Regions from separate parts of the Homo sapiens genome. Here region 1 is linked to region 2. The links come from fine-mapping of genetic effects on gene expression. Tissue or cell type: whole blood. Region 2 holds a variant in brackets; the other region holds the start of a gene. All regions are shown on one strand. Distances are from middle to middle.

Evidence for each region. PIP is the estimated chance that this variant, and not a neighbour inherited with it, causes the effect.
Region 1: it holds the start of BLOC1S3, and the variant in region 2 is fine-mapped to the expression of BLOC1S3 in whole blood (TOPMed, PIP above 0.99).

What each region holds. Positions count from the first base shown.
Region 1 is chr19:45,175,379-45,183,378 of GRCh38, reverse strand. It overlaps BLOC1S3 (biogenesis of lysosomal organelles complex 1 subunit 3), which reads right to left and starts at 4,595. Exons shown (of 2, transcript NM_212550.5): 1 at 4,548-4,595; 2 at 1,579-4,091. The coding sequence starts at 4,082. The coding sequence ends at 3,474. TRAPPC6A (trafficking protein particle complex subunit 6A) reads left to right here and starts at 5,142. Exons shown (of 6, transcript NM_001270891.2): 1 at 5,142-5,244. The coding sequence starts at 5,161. RefSeq lists enhancers at 2,381-2,882, 3,308-3,808, 4,349-4,668, 4,739-4,808, 4,821-5,764 and silencers at 3,689-3,998, 5,169-5,388.
Region 2 is chr19:45,123,164-45,131,163 of GRCh38, reverse strand. The region is part of intron 1 of PPP1R37 (protein phosphatase 1 regulatory subunit 37); the gene reads right to left. It also overlaps the pseudogene EIF5AP3. Among named protein-coding and RNA genes, the nearest start is that of NKPD1, 34 kb to the left of the region's middle. RefSeq lists a silencer at 619-913 and enhancers at 934-1,435, 5,020-5,159. The variant G/C (reference allele first, on the strand shown) is at 4,062.

The DNA.
Region 1 (8,000 bases), 52 kb before region 2:
TCAGCCTCCTGAGTAGCTGGGATTACAGGCATGTGCCACCATGCCTAATTTTTATATTTTCAGTAGAGACAGGGTTTCACCACGTTGGCCAGGCTGGTCTCGAACTCCTGACTTCAGGTGATCTGCCTGCCTCGACCTCCCAAAGTGCTGGAATTACAGGCGTGAGCCACTGCGCACAGCCAATAATACAATTTTTTTAAAGCTCACCTTTATCTGGCCCCTTCTGGTACTGCACTCAGCACCCCCCTGCCCCACAACCACCCCACACTTCTCCATTCTAGGTGGAGAGCAGAAATCATCTTCTTCTGTTAAACAGGTTATGGTCCCTTTCCCTTCTGCCTCAGGGCCCTCGCATATGCTGTTCTCCCTGTCTGCAACTCTTCACCCTACTCCCATTTCACCTACTTCCACCTTCCGGGCTCAGCTCCAGCACCACTCATCACTTCCTCTCTCCCGCCCAGATTAGGTCAGGTGGATCCCGCTCCACCTTCATAAAGCTCCTTTACTTCTTCATGGCTCTAATCATGGTGCCAAGAAAATTGTATCTAAATTATAAATTATGGCTGGGTGCAGTGGCTCATGCCTGTAATCCTAGCCCTTTGGGAGGTCAAGACAGGAGAATCCCTTGAGCTCAGAAGTTCAAGACCAACTTGGGCAACATTGTGAGAGCTCGTCTCTATTTTATTTTTTAAAATTAATTATTTTTTATTTATTTTTGAGATGGAGTCTCACTCTCACCCAGGATGGAGTGCAGTGGCATGATCTCAGCTCACTGTAACCTCCACCTCCTGGGCTCAAGCGATTCTCCTGCCTCAGCCTCCCGAGTAGCTGGGATTACAGGCATGTGCCACCACGCCTGGCTAATGTATTTTTAGTGGAGATAGAGTTTCACCATGTTGGCCAGGCTGGTCTAGAACTCCTGACCTCAGGTGATCTGCCTACCTCGATCTCCCAAAGTGCTGGGATTAAAGACATGCGTAACTGCGCCTGGCCTATTTATTTTTGAGACAGAGTCCTGCTCTGTCGCTCGGGCTGGAGTGCAGTGGCACGATCTTGGGTCACTTCAACCTCTGCCTCCAGGGTTCAAGCGATTCTCATGCCCCAGCTCCCTGAGTAGCTGGAATTACTAGCACGTGCCTCGGCCTCCCAAAGTGCTAGGATTACAGGCGTGATACATCGCCCAAAATTTTTGTATTTTTAATAACTACAGGGTTTCACCATGTTGGCCAGGCTATCATCTCTATTTTTAAAAATTAAACTATAAATTATGATTACTAGAACTATCTATGAGAACATCTTATTACTGTTTCTCCCACTGGACTGCGACCTCTGTGAGGGCAGGGACTGGGTGCTATACCCCTAGCCGCAGCACAGGTCAGGTACCCAAAACGTGTGTGTTGAATTAATAAAATACGAGTAAATACAGAACCAGGGCAAAAATCTAGGGCCCCTGATTTCCCAACTACAGCTTCACCTTCCATAAGCCAGGCATGGAGGTCTCGGGACCCCCATTCTCAGAGAAATCAACCAACTCACCCTTAGCTTAGATAGGGAAACAAAAGGAACTAACCATAAGGGTAAATGCTTAAGAGTTTTAATCAGTCCGCCATAAAAAGCTCCTCCCCATTCTCCATCTTGGGGGCTCAGATCTTGGCTTCGGGTTGAGATGAGGGACAGGGATATCAGGCTGGGAGAGGAGAGTAAATATGAATGCGGCTGAGGGACCAGAGCTGGGATCGGAAGAAAACACAGGTGAAAAGGAGCAGAAAGAGACTGCTAACCCCAGTCCCTGAGCCAAGTCAGAAATCCAAGTCCTTTTATAGCATCCAGGAGCCAAATGTAGTGAAATCCACACATCATATCGTTCTTATCTGCAAAGTGCTGTCATCTGGCGCTGAAAGCACCAGGACTGGGCTGAATTGGGCCCGAAGTGCCTGAAGGGTGTCACTTTAGGTCTGGAGAGTCAAGAGGAGACGCCACCTTGGCCTACAGAGTTGAGAGCGAGCATCATCTTGGCCTGGAGGGGTGTGCAGGAAATGCCACCTTGGTCCAGGGAGTTGGGAGGAAGATCCCCTGCCTTGGGTTAAGAGGGGCCATCATTTTGGGCCTGCAGAAGGAAGGAAACCATGGGGAGTCCCCAGACCCCAGGATCAGGGAGGTGTAAGTAGGATGGAGACAGTAAAAGAAAGCAAAACCTATCCCACGACACTGCTGGACTTGGGAAACAGAAATCAGGCTGAGAGGGCGGGGCTAAGCTCAAAGGGGAGGAGGCAGGAGGCAGATGGGAGAACAAAAAGTAGAACCAGCACACGGAACCAGGGCCAAGCTTGGGCAGCAGAACAAGGACCCAGCTGGCTAGGCGCAGTGGCCCACGCCTGTAATCCCAGCATTTTAGGAGGTGAGGCGGGTGGATCACCTGAGGCCAGGAGTTCGAGACCAGCCTGGCCAACAAGGTGAAACCTCATCTCTACTAAAAATATAAAAAGTAGCCAGGCGTGGTGGTGCATGCCTGTAATCCTAGCTACTCGGGAGGCTGAGGCAGGAGAATCGCTTGAACTCGGGAGGTGGAGGTGGCAGTGAGCCGAGATCACGCCACTGTACTCCAGCCTGGGAGACACAGTGAGACCCTGTCTCTAAAAACAAAACAAGGACCCAGCCTAGGGTGAAGGCAGTTCTGGAAGTGGAGCTAGGATGGGAGGCGTAGCCAACTGAGTGAAGGAAGACGGCAGGGAAGCTGTGCCACATCCTGGGTTCTTGTGGGAAGAACGGGAACAAGCTCCCCACCATAAGCAGAAACCAAACTCAGAAAGGCAGAGCAGAGCCCAGTGTGTGGTGGCTCACACCTGTAACCCCAGCACTTTGGGACGCCACAGTGGGAGGATTGCTTGAGCCCGGGAGTTTGAGACAAGCCTGGGCAACATAGTGAGACCTTCTCCCCTCTTCAAACCGACAGAAAAAAATTAACCGGGCAGCTGGACGTGGTGGTGCAGGTCTGCAGTCCCAGCTACTCTTGAAGGCTGAGCTGGGAGGATCACTTGAGCCCAGGAGGTCGAGGTTGCAGTGAGCAGTAATCCCGCCACTGCACTCTAGCCTGGGTGACAGATAAACACCCTGTCTCCAAAAAAAAAAAAAAAAAAAAAAAATTGGTGAGCCCCCAGGGTGGAAACAGATTAAGGAGCAACTATGTAACAAAGGCTGGAGCCAAGCCCCAGGGGAAGGCTCAGAACCAGGCGGCAGGGTCAGGATCGGGAGAGGAACCAGATCTAAGGATAGTGGGGCCCTGGTCTCCGCAGTAGGGGTTGAACTATATCCAATATAAAGCATTATCCAAGGGGACCGGATTAGCCCCCATGGGTGACACCAAGATGGGAGCGGGGGTGGGGGGTGATAAGAGACACAGGAGACAGAGTCAGGTCCCAGAGGCAGCAAGGCCTACCCCCAAATTGCAGTCAGGTTGGGAAGTAGAATCATGGCTAGGCCCGCGGCCCCGGGTCTTTCTCAGGCTCGGTCCCTGGCACGCCGCGGATGTCCGGCAGCAGGCGGCAGCCAGCCACGATGTCCAGACGCTCGGCCAGCGCACAAAGGTCCCCGCGCGCCAGGCGCACGCTGTGGGCCGCCGCCAGCCCCGCCGCCTGGGCTGCCGCCAGCCTACTAGCCAGGGCGGCCACGTCGCGGCCTGCACGGCGGTAGACACCGCTCACGGCGGCCGCCACGTCGTGGTCCAGCCGCGCCTGGCTCTCCGCCAGCCGAAGTTGCAGGAGCGAGCGCGCGGGGGCGGGCGCCGGGGCCTCCTCCGTGCCCCAGGCCTCCTCCGCCGATTCCCGCTGCACCACGAGTGGAGGCAGGTCCCTCGGCGCGGCCGTCGGTTCCGGCTCCGGCTCCGGCTCCGAGTCGGTCTCCGCGGCTTCCCCAGCCACCCGCAGCCCCGTGGGGCGGCCGCGCGTCGGGCCCGAAGGACCCAGGTACAGCTCCTCCTCCTCCGACGAGGACGCAGAGCGCTCGGAATCCGTCTCGGTCGCCTCCCCCGGCACCACCGTCTCCGGCCTCCGCAGGGGCCTCCGCCGACGACCCTGGGACGCCATGGCACCGAACTAGGGGAGAAGAGCGAAGGGACTGCACGTGAGACCGGCGCCGCGGTGGGTAAAAGGCGCAGGTCCTGGATTCCCAGCCCCTTCGCTGATTCTCTTAACGACTTGGTGTCAGCTGCTCCCCGTCTGGGCCTCAGTTTCCTCTTCTGTAAACTGGGTGATGATGGGGGTTACTGGACCCCAGGCTCTTCAGCGTACAGATGGGGAAACTGAAGACCAGCTCGAACAAGGATCTGGGGCCCGAGTTCCCGGAGTCCCAAGCCGAGGTCTTTACGAATTTGCCTCCTAGTAGAGGCCACACCCTCCACCTGGTCCACCATGCCAATCTCAGACCCGGAAGCACACGGGCCCGTGAGCTGCTCGGGACCAGCGCCAGAGTCGCAGAAAGGATGACAGTCCGACTGGACTCTGCTGGGGGCACTCATGGGATGGGAGAAGCGCTAACGCCAAAGACCGTACCCGGCAGCTGACGCTCGGAGCTTGCGAGATCCGCTTCCTAACCCGAGTGCTGCGTTCTCACCGTGGCAGCTGAAGGGCTGTGATTTCAACCAATAGGGGAGCGGGTTGGGCGGGCATTAGCGGCCAAGTCACGTGGATTCGCCCGGCTACCAATCAGGAAGCAAGTTCTCAGCATCAGCTTTGAGTGAGCGTGCAGAAGAGTCACATGAATGGAGGAACCGCCAATAGAGAAACAGCTGGGCCGGCTCTTCCAGGTTGTGCGACGAGGAAAGTCTGGAGTGGACCAATAGGGATTTTAAAAGCCGAGTATGTCACGTGTAACCAGTAATTTGGCCAATAGGAATGCTCGAGAACCCGGAAATAGGGAAGGGACGGCAGTAAGAGCAGAAGATGTTGCCACATGTGGCCAGAGAAGGCGTAGGCCCGCCCCCTAGTGTCCCAGGCTCACGCGCACACCACCTGAGTCCGGGGCGGGGAGGCGGGGCTAGTCTAAAACACCAATGGAAGCCGGAGTAGGAGGGCTCGCGCCATGACGCAAGAGGCGTGGCTTACCAAGCCTGGCCAATGAGAGCTGGAAGCGCTGGGCGCATCTTTAGGCGTGCGAGGAGGGGGCATGGCGGATACTGTGTTGTTTGAGTTTCTTCACACGGAGATGGTGGCTGAGCTGTGGGCTCACGACCCCGACCCCGGCCCGGGGGTGAGCGCCGGGCTCCGTGGGGAGGAAGCGGGGGCCACCAAGGTAACGCCTCTGGGAGAGCGGAGGGCGCGTCAGGCGTCCGGGTTCGAACCCGGCCCAGCCCCGGCCTTGCAGGGCAACGTCTGGCCCTGGCTTCCTCCTTTGGAAAGTGGCGTTCGCGACGGTGCCGGCTCGGGGTTATTGCTAAATTGAGCGCGATGATTCAGGGTAAAGCACTTAGCTCAAGGCCTGAGTAAGCGGCTAGTAATCATAATAATGCTGTTATTGGGCGTGTGCTGAGGACTCGCCTCCCCCACTTACTAGGTGTGCGACCCAATGACTTAATCTTTGTGTGTCCTAGTTTTCTCTTTTGTAAAATGAGTATCATAACGTACCTAAGCCTCAGCGTGGGACATTTATTTATTCGACACCCACTTATTGAGCGTCTGTTGTATTCCAGGCACCGTTCTAAGACAGAATCCCTTCCTTGTGAAGCTTACATTTCACTAGGGGAGTCAAATAATAAAATGAAATATGCCGGCTGGGCGCTGTAGCTCCCAGCACTTTGGGAGGCCGAGGCCGTCGGATCACCTGAGGTCAGGAGTTCAAGACCAGCCTGGCCATGGTGAAACCCCGTGTCTACAAAAATTAGCCGAGCATGATGGCGGGTACCTGTAATCCCAGCTACTCGGGAGGCTGAGACAGGAGAATGGCTTGAACCTGGGAGGCGGAGGTTGCAGTGAGCCAAGATTGTGCCATTGCACTCCAGCCTAGGCGACAGAGCGAGACTTGTCTCAGGAAAAAAAAAAAAGAGATAATGGGGTTTTGCCATGTTGCCTAGGCTGGTCTTGAACCCCTAGGCTCAAGTGATTCTCCCGCCTGGGCCTCCCAAAGTGCTAGGATTACAGGCGTGAACTACCGTGACTGGCCCGGGACTGTGTGTGTGTGTGTGTGTGTGTGTGTGCGCGCACGCGCATCCTGCTCGGTCGCCCAGGCTGGCTGGAGTGCAGTGATGCAGTCATGGCTCACTGCTGCCTCGACCTCCTGGGCTCAAGCGATCATCCCACTTCTCAGCCTCCCAAGTAGCTGGGACCACAAGCGCTGCTGGCGCCACCACACCTGGCTAATTTTTTGTATTATTATTATTTTTTTTAGTAGAGACGGGTTTTCACTGTTAGCCAGGATGGTCTCCATCTTCTGACCTCGTGATCTGCCCATCTTGGCCTCCCAAAGTGCTAGGATTACAGGCGTGAGCCACTGCACCCGGCCAATTTTTTTTTTTTTTTAGTAGATACGGGGTTTCACCATTTTGGCCAGGCTGGTGTCGAACTCCTGACCTTGTGATCCACCCGCCTCGGCCTCCCAAAGTGCTGGGATTACAGGCGTGAGCCACCGCACCTGGCCATGTAAGACATTTTTATTGGCTCTGGTTTCCTTCCAGGGTTAGAAGCCCCAGGGAGGATGTTGCTTGTTACCATCTCGATATACAGATACAAACCTGTCATAAGTTTAAAACATCATAAATCAAAAATGCATTTAGCCAGATGTGGCGACTTGCACCTGTAATCCCAGGTACTCAGGAAGCAGAGGTGGGAGGATCACTTGAGGCCCACCGTTCAAGACTAGCCTGGGCAACATAGCAAGACCTCACCTCTAAAAGAAATTTTTATTTTTATTTATTTATTTATTTTTGAGACAGAGTCTTGCTCTGTCGCCCAGGCTGGAGTGCAGTGGCGCAATCTTGGCTCACTGCAAGCTCCGCCTCCTGGGTTCACGCAATTCTCCCGCCGCAGCCTCCTGAGTAGTTGGGACTACAGGTGCCTGCCACCACACCCGGCTAATTTTGTTTTTTTTTTTTGTATTTTTAGTAGAGATGGGGTTTCACCATGTTAGCCAGGATGGTTTTGATCTGACCTCGTGATCTGCCCGCCTCGGGCTTCCAAAGTGCTGGGATTACAGGTGTGAGCCACTGTGCCTGGCCAAGAAATTTTTAAAATTAGCTGGGCGTGATGACACATGCCTATACTACCAAGAACTCGGGAGGCTGAGGTGGGAGGATTGCCTGGGCCCAGGAGTTCAAGGCTGCAGTGAGCTATGATCATGCCACTGCACTCCAGCCTGGGTGATAGAGTGAGACCCTGTCTCTAAAAAAACATGGGGATTACTCAGTGAACCATCAAAAATTTTTGGACTCTTGGAGCTTTGTCATCATTGGAGGAGACAGACAAGTAAATGAGTAAAGTGTCTGGTACATTGTGTAACTGCTATGAGGAAGATACAGCATGGCCCAGGGAGTATGCATCAGCCTGGGGGTGGGTAATAATGTCCCAACACTCCATATCCTTCCTGGCTTTCAAACGAGAAACCCTGGAGTCCCAACACCTGCCTTGTCTCCCTCACCTGCAGCCCTCCCCCAGGCTCTGCCCAGTCAGTCTAAATACCTTTCTCACGTGGCCCCTCCTCTGCCCTGGTCCAGTGCTTTCCGCTCTCCTGTGAAATGAGCCTGCTCCCTTCTCCCAGCCCATTCCACCTGTCACATCTTCACCATGCTAACAACTATTAATCCTTCAGATCTTAGCGTAACAATCCCTTCCTCAGGGATGCCTTCCCTGAGCCCCCAGTCAAATTTGGATCTCCTTTATACATTCTCCTGGTCTCCCTCTCGCACTTTTTTCTTGGTAGGCTTCATCATACTCAATAAGGATGTATTTGATTTTTTTTTTTTTTTTGAGACGGAGTCTCGCTCTGTCGCCCAGGCTGGAGTGCAGTGGCGCGAT
Region 2 (8,000 bases):
TCACAAAGGGACAGAGAGAAACCTGACGCCGGGCATCAGGTGACAGGCAGAGAGATGTCTGTCTGGCATTTGCACACAGGTGCAATGGTACCCAAGAGATGCAAGGACAGGTTGGGCATCAGGGGGCGGTGATGACTCACACCATCCGTGCCAGCCTGGAGCAGGGCGGGGGAAACAGACACAGTCATCCAAGTGGGAGTCAAAACACCAGGAAGCAACACTGTGCGGGCTGGGGGACACAGTGGGAGGGTGTCAACTCTCAGAGGAGGGATGGGGAGGGAGGAAGTCCAGACAAGCCTGGAGCAGGAATATTTAGGGCTGCTCCGTAACAACCATGCTACCTCTGGCTGGAAATGACCTTCCCATGCCCCAGTGTCCACCACATGAAATCGGGACGTCTGCGAGCCAGGTTCACAGAGCACCAGAGTCAGGAGGTCCTAGCTAGGGCCCAGGGGCCCAGATTTTAACAGGTCCCCATATGACTGTGATGGCAACCAGGCTCAGAATAACCACGCTTTGCAATGCAGGTGTTATTTTGTTATTTTGGAATGAACAGAAAGGAGCCAGGGTGAGCTGGCCTTGAAAGGAGTGTTCCCAGAGGCCCCACCGGGCTCAGGTCTGGGTCTTCATTCAGGAGGCCCACTGCGCAGTCCCTGTGCAAACCCCGTGGCAGGCAGCAACCACTGGGGCAGGCTTAAGTGTGACGGTGGGAGCAGGCTCGGCGCCAAAGCACACCGGGAGGGGAGCACTGGGGATGATGTGGGACGGTGACCCCGTGGACCCTGGTGAGGACTTCGCTCTCATTCTGCAGGAGACCGGAGCCACTGGGGGCGAGGGGCAGAGCAGCAACAGGATGGATTCAGGCTCATGGGAGGATTGTATTCTGCAGGAGTGGGGTCCCCTGTAGTACTCACGGGGAGGGGACCTGATCGTGCAGGTTGGCAGTCAGGAATGGCACACCAGATTGCCATCTTGGATGGTGACAGCCTCACCTGTCCCTGGGTTTTGGCAGCTGAGCCCCCGCTAGTGCTCCAGCTCCAAGAGGGGTTGTGGGACACAGGCGAGTCAATGCCTGCAGCCCAGGCATCCCCCTGCTTGGCACCCTGCTGGTTAGGTCCTGTGCTGCCTGGACCCCACAGAAGCCCCCCAGCCACCCCAAGAGACATCCTTTTACTATCCCCTTTTCAGAGTCAAGGCTCACAGAGGCAAGAGTACAGACTAAAAGGCCCAGGTCTGCCTCGACTATTATTGTTTTTTTCCATATTAAACTTGTAGTTTTATTCAGGTTTGATTTTAACAAATGTGTTGGGGAGAGAGACCGCAGGGAAGGGTAAAGCCCATGGGGGCAGGACCCCTCCCCGCTCCTCCTTTTCCCTCCCCATCTAAAGGGGTTTGGGGAGAGGCACAGGTACGGCAGGGGGCTGGCCTTAGTCTGTGGGGGTCGTGCTTAGGGTATAGGACCATGGGGAACAGGGGACCAGACCAGGGGTGAGTGGGGAGGGCACAAGGACCATGTGCCAGAATCCACCGCTTTCTGATTCCAGATTGAATTAAAATAAATAAATAAGGCCGGGCTCAGTGGCTCACACCTGTAATCCCAGCACTTTGGGAGGCCGAGACGGGCAGATCACGAGGTCAGGAGTTCAAGACCAGCCTGGCCAACATAGTGAAACCCTGTCTCTACTAAAAATACAAAAATTAGCCTGGCATGGTGGCACGTGCCTGTAATCCCAGCTACTCGGGAGGCTGAGGCAGGAGAACTGCTTAACCCAAGAGGTGGAGGTTGCAGTAAGCCGAGATGGTGCCCCGTGCACTCCAGCTTGGGCAACAGAGTGAGACTCTGTCTCAAATAAATAAACCACAAGCATCGCCCACCGTCTCCCCCCAACCAGGGCTGTAGTGCGAGCAGGGAAAAGGATGGCAGCTTCACCAAGGCCATGGCTTTGCTTGTTCCTGGCCAAGGGAGCTAGGTGAAGGGCAGGGGCTCCCCGACAGATTGAAGGGGTGGGAAAAACAAAATAAAACATCAAATACATTGTGTAGGAAGAGTCCAGCCTACAGAAGGCCAGAGGAGGGGGCCTCTGCAGTCTCAGAAGATCACTGCTGCCACCACTGTCACCCTGGGAGCCAGTTCTTTTGCCATGGCCTTGACTGCAACAGCTGCCTCCTCTGTCATGGCAGACAGCACGGTGATCAGGGTCCCTTCTCCACAGCGGTACTTTTGCTCATCTCCTTGCCAAGGTCTCCTCTGGCAGACGAAGAAGGTCCTCTCGCACCTCCCTGCTGTCCTGGAGCAGTGAGGGGTACCTTCCTGGATGCCAATCAACTGGGAGTCATTCCTTTTGATGCTGGGGACACCCACATTATAAGGTGACAGGCAGTTATTTTTATATTTCTTCCCAGTAAAGATGTCAATACCAACCAGGTGGACCTTGACGCGGCTGTGCTTGCCAGTCTTCCAAGCAGACATCTCAAAGACCTTACAGGGCCAGCCTTTGAGCACCACGAAGCCAGTGTTACATAATGCTGAGCACTGCATTGGGAAGGAGGCCGAGGCCCCTGCATCTCTTGTCTCGAAGTCCAAATCATCTGCCATTTTAAGAGGCTTCGATTCCAGCTCTCGCAAACACACTGACTCAACCTTGTCTTCTCGCTGCAAACCCAACCGCTGCCTCTGGGCCTGCTGCTGCCGCTGCCTCTACCACCCTGCCTTGACTTTAAACACACACAGCTGCAGGCATCACAATATTTTGCTTAAATGATCAGACTAGGCTCTGCAGCAACTACTCAACTCTGCCTTGTAGCATGAAAAGAGTAATAGATAGTATATAAACAAATGAGCCTGGACATGTGCAAATAAAACTTTATTTACAAACTCTGTCGGCTGGCCTGGGCTGTGGCTGCTGTGGATTGTCATTAGCTAAGCTCCATCAGAGATCCTTCCAGAAGGACATACAATAAACTAGGTGACTGCTTTTAGGAAGGTGAGCTGGCAAAGCCAAAGGAGGACAGGGAGAGAGAAACTTCCTTCTCTCTATATACATTTTTTAAAATGTTTAATTTTATTAATACATAATTATTATACATATTTATGGGGTACATGTGGTATTTCGATAAATGCATACAAGGATTGAGTCAGGGTAATTAGCATATCACCTCAAACATTTATCTTTTTTTTTTTTTTTTTTTGAGATGGAGTCTCGCTCTGTTGCCCAGGCTGGAGTGTAGTGGCACGATCTCGGCTCACTGCAACCTCTGCCTCCCGGGTTCAAGGGATTCTCCTGCCTCAGCCTCCCTAGTAGATGGAACTACAGGCATGTGCCACCACACCTGGCTAATTTTTGTATTTTTAGTAGAGACAGGGTTTCACTGTGTTAGTCAGGATGGTCTCTATCTCCTGACCTCATGATCCACCCACCTCGGCCTCCCACAGTGCTGGGATTACAAGCGTGAGCCACCGCGCCCGGCCCAAACATTGATCATTTCTTTATGTTGAATCTCTGTCCACCTTTTTACATCTTTTGAATACTGAGGCACATACAGGTCTAGTCATAAGCCGCATAAAGCCATTTCAGTCAATGATGGACTGCATATGCAGCCGGTGGTCCCATAAGATTTCCCACTATATTTTTACTGTCCCTTGTCTACGTTCATATACACAAATACCTACCACTGTGTTACACTTGCCGAGGGTACTCAGCACAGCCACATGCTGTGCAGGTGTGGAGCCCAAGAGCACTAGACTATTCCAGGTAGCCCAGGTGTGCAGTAGGCATGCCACCTAGGGTTTTTTTTTTTTTTTTTTTTTTTTGAGATGGAGTTTTACTCTTCTTGCCCAGGCTGGAGTGTAATAGCATGATCTCAGCTTACTGCAACCTCCACCTCCCAGGTTCAAACGATTCTCCTCCTGCCTCAGCCTTCCGAGTAGCTGAGATTACAGGCACACGCCACCACGCCAGGCTAATTTTGTATTTTTAATAGAGATGGGGTTTCACCAGGTTGGTCAGGCTGGTCTCAAACTCCTGACCTCAGGTGATCCGCCCATCTAGAACTCCCACAGT[G/C]CTGGGATTACAGGTGTGAGCCACCAGGCCTGACCAGGCCTAGGTTTGTGTAAGTCCACTAGGATGTTCACATGACCATGAAATCACCTAACGACGCAGTTCTCAGAATGTGTCATCATTAAGTGATATAGGACCGTATTACTACACAACTCACACATTAAGGTGAAAGAAACCAACATCACCAGCCCCTGAGCAGCCTGGCCACAGGCCGTGCTCCTGGTGATGTGCTGACTCAGAAGGCTCCCATTCCTGAGGCTTCCGGCAGATAATCAGATAATCGATAGGACCTGGTCACTGCTACATGCACAGGGATGGGCAGGGTGGAGAGAGAAGCTGGGAAGAACCTGGCTTCAAGCCTGGGTGACTGGATAGCTGGTGGGGTCCCAAACCAGGAAACACCGCAACACATGGAAATAGAGATGTCATTTTCTTTTAAGAGCATGGAGGCAAGTATTATTTACATAATCTCAAAAGAGAAAAGAAACACTTATTGTGGTATTTTCCAGAATTCTCAAGCCGGGGAGGTAGGGCGAGGGTGCAATAAAGTCACACCTGGAAACCAGGCCTGAGCTCTTGTTCACGACAATAAATAACCACCAACATGGCAGAGCCCCATTTCCCCACAGCATGCGGGCCTCGAAGCCAGGCGCCTGGGTTCCAATCCCTGCTCCGTCGCCAACAGCACAGAGCAGTGACTGCCCTGGGCCTCCCTGCTGCATCAACAGCACCTTCCCAGGGAGGGCTTGGTGAGCTCACCCAGCCTGGCACTCAGCACCACAAGGCACACAGGAAGGGCCCCTGTCCCTGCCCTCCAGAACCGTATGTTACAGTTGCTGCCACCACTCTGTGCCTGCCACATGCACCTACCCCACAAGGGGGCACCATCACCATCGTTCCACCTCACAGGCTCTGCAGGGAAGGTCCCAGTTGGGAGTCTCATGGCAGGTGAGTGACCGGCCCATGTGGGACAGCGTCTCAAGGAGCAGCCTGGGAATCCGGTGCTGGGCCTCTCTGCAGGACTCTCCATGCTTGTCAGCCCCCACGACTTGGGCACCATCCACCCCTATCTGGATGGTGGGCTGCACACCCTCGGGAAGGAGCCTGGGGCACAGGGGGTGTGGTCCACCTTTCCTGAAGCCTGTGCACTTGCAGCAGCCCCACAAGTAGAGATTTCAGGTCAAGTGAGAAACTCATCCCACAGGGAGCTCTGCCTTGGCGTGGGGTCTGGGAAAGGACGAAGAGGTCTGAGGCCAGAATGGCCCACTTCTCTTCCTGTCTTCCCCTGGGTGGACCAGCCTTGGTCACCCAATCTCTCTCACCCCAGGAGCCTGGATAGGCCTCTTCACTTTACCTTGACTCCCCGCTGTCCTCCCCAAAGGTTCTAGGAGTGGATAGGTGCCCCGTCCCACAACCTCTGTTACAATGATCGGTCAGGGACAGGAAGGTTACAGAGCCAGCCACAGCCGGTCCTACGCCCTGAGATGGAACTCTCAGGAAAGAGGAGCTCTCTTCCCACTAGGGTGGTTAAGACTGCATCCCATTTCTAGAGCTACTGGCAGCCATCCCTGCACCCATCAGGAGGGAACAGCCTTCCGCGAATGAAGCCAGCTCAGAGGAAAGCCAAGCTCAGATATTTTATTTTTTAGATGGAGTCTCGCTGTCGCCAGGCTGGAGTGCAGTGGTGTGATCTTGGCTCACTGCAACCTCTGCCTCCCAGGTTCAAGCAATTCTCCTGCCTCAGCCTCCTGAGTAGCTGGGACTACAGGCACGCGCCACCACACCCGGCTAATTTTTGTATTTTTAGTAGAGACGGGGTTTCACCATGTTGGCCAGGATGGTCTCCAGCTCTTGACCTAATGATCCGCCCGCCTCGGCCTCCCAAAGTGCTGGGATTACAGACGTGAGCCACTGTGCCCGGCCAAGCTCAGAGATTAAAGAGATATTGTTTGATAAAGAGATACTGTGCCTGACACCACACTATTCAGGACCCTTCAGACCCATAAGACAACAAATCTCCTCTTTTTGCTTCAACCATTCTGCCTCAGGCTTCGAATTTAGGAGAATTCCAAGCTTCGAATTTAGGAGAATTCCGTCTTGCCTCTCATCTGGTAAACATTTCCCAAAACCTATTTTTTGGGGGGTCCCCATCTGTCACCCAGGCTGGAGTTCAGCGGCTCAATCATAGCTCACTGCAGCCTTGCACTCCTGGGCTCAAGTGACCCTCCCACCTCAACCTCCCAAGTAGCTGAGACTACAGGCACACCCTACCATGCTTGGCCAGTTTTTTTTTTTTTTCTTTTTTTATGTAGAGACCGGGTCTCAGTATGTTGTACAGGTTGGTCTTGAACTCCTGGGCTCAGGTGATCCTCCTGCCCCAGCCTCCCAAAATGTTGGGATTACAGGTGTGAGCCACCAAGCCCAGTCCCCAAAACCTACTCAGGCCAAGCTCTGTGCTGGCACTGGGGAGACAGGGATGGCTCTGAACTGGTCCCTGCCCTCCAGGGGTTCTTGTCTGGCAGGGAAGGAGCACACAGATGATGCGTGAGAGCGAGGAGGGGGCCGTGCACGCACTGGACTGAGGAAAGGCCAGGCAGACAGGTAGAGTCAGGTCTCAGGGGCCGCCCTTCAGCCTTGTCAAAAAATCTGGACCTCTCTTGGGAGAATTTCTAGGATCATTGGGGGAAAAAAAAGAAAAGAAAAATAGACAATCTGGACCTCTCCACTCATGGGGCACTGTGCTCTGGCCACACCCAAATTCTTCCCGTCCCCCGAAGGGCCCGGTGCTTCCCAGCACCTCACATTCTCCCTCCCCTTTACACATTACACGGTACATGCTCTCACTGCTTACTACTTCTTCAATTCTCAGCTTAGGGATGCCTTCTCCAGGAAGCCCTCCCTGATCCCCACGGTAGGTCAGGCCCCACCCTCTGGGCTCCCCGTCTCAGCCCTGTCCCCTCTGAGTTGTCACCATCTGGAGACCTGTGTGTCTCCCCCACTGGACTATGAGTCCTAGGAAGACAGCATGGGGTGGTCTGTGGTCCACACTGTTACCCCAACATTGCTCCACATGGGGCCAGCCAGGCACAGAGAAGGGGCCAAGACAGGCACAGAGAAGGTGAGTGAGCGGACAGAGGAGAAGCTCACATCTGGCCACTGCAGTAGACCCTGAAGGTAGATGGGGATGTTCTGGCCAGGAAGGGCCCGGTCTACTCCATGCTTAGGAAGATTACTGCGGGGACTTGGCCCAGTGAACAAGGAAGCCTGCAGGCAGGGGAGAGGGATGCCAGGGCCTCAAAGCTGCAAGAAGCTACTCATGTAGTGAAACACGTTCTAAAATTCTAAAACATGCCCTAAAGCATTCCCTGCACAGAATGGTGCGAGCAGCTCTTTACTGAACCCCTTCCCTACCAGGCACTCTGCCAAACACTCGATTACTGCATTTAATCCGCATCATAATCCTGCAGAGTAGAATTTCCAGCCTCTACCACGCTACAGAGGGAATGGTCTTCTGAGGCCACACCTGTGGGAGCGGACAGAGGGAGGTTTGAACCAGAGCTGTCTGTCCTGCATCAGTACCCTGAAGCCCTCAGGCCCCGGCTTCAAACCGGACAGACAGGTTGTGGGAGCCTAGAAATGCAGCCTTCTCGAACTTCAAGACAGGGAGGCTGCCAGAGAGACTGTCTTTCTCTGTTGGGTTTCCAGGATGTGGAGAGCGGGTCCTGCCCTCAGCAAGGATGCGCTCGTAGGTTTCTTCCTGGTGCCTGCAGGAAGACCCAGCCTCCAGAGGCCCTTCACAGGTGCCAGTGCTGGGCGGGAGAGGTGTGGGCACCTGGTCCAGCCTGGGGTGCACTCACCCCTGGGACAGCCCCCAAATGCCTCCAATAGGCAGTGGCCCAATCCCCCACAAGCCAGCTCTGTCCCAGAGCCTTCTGCACAATC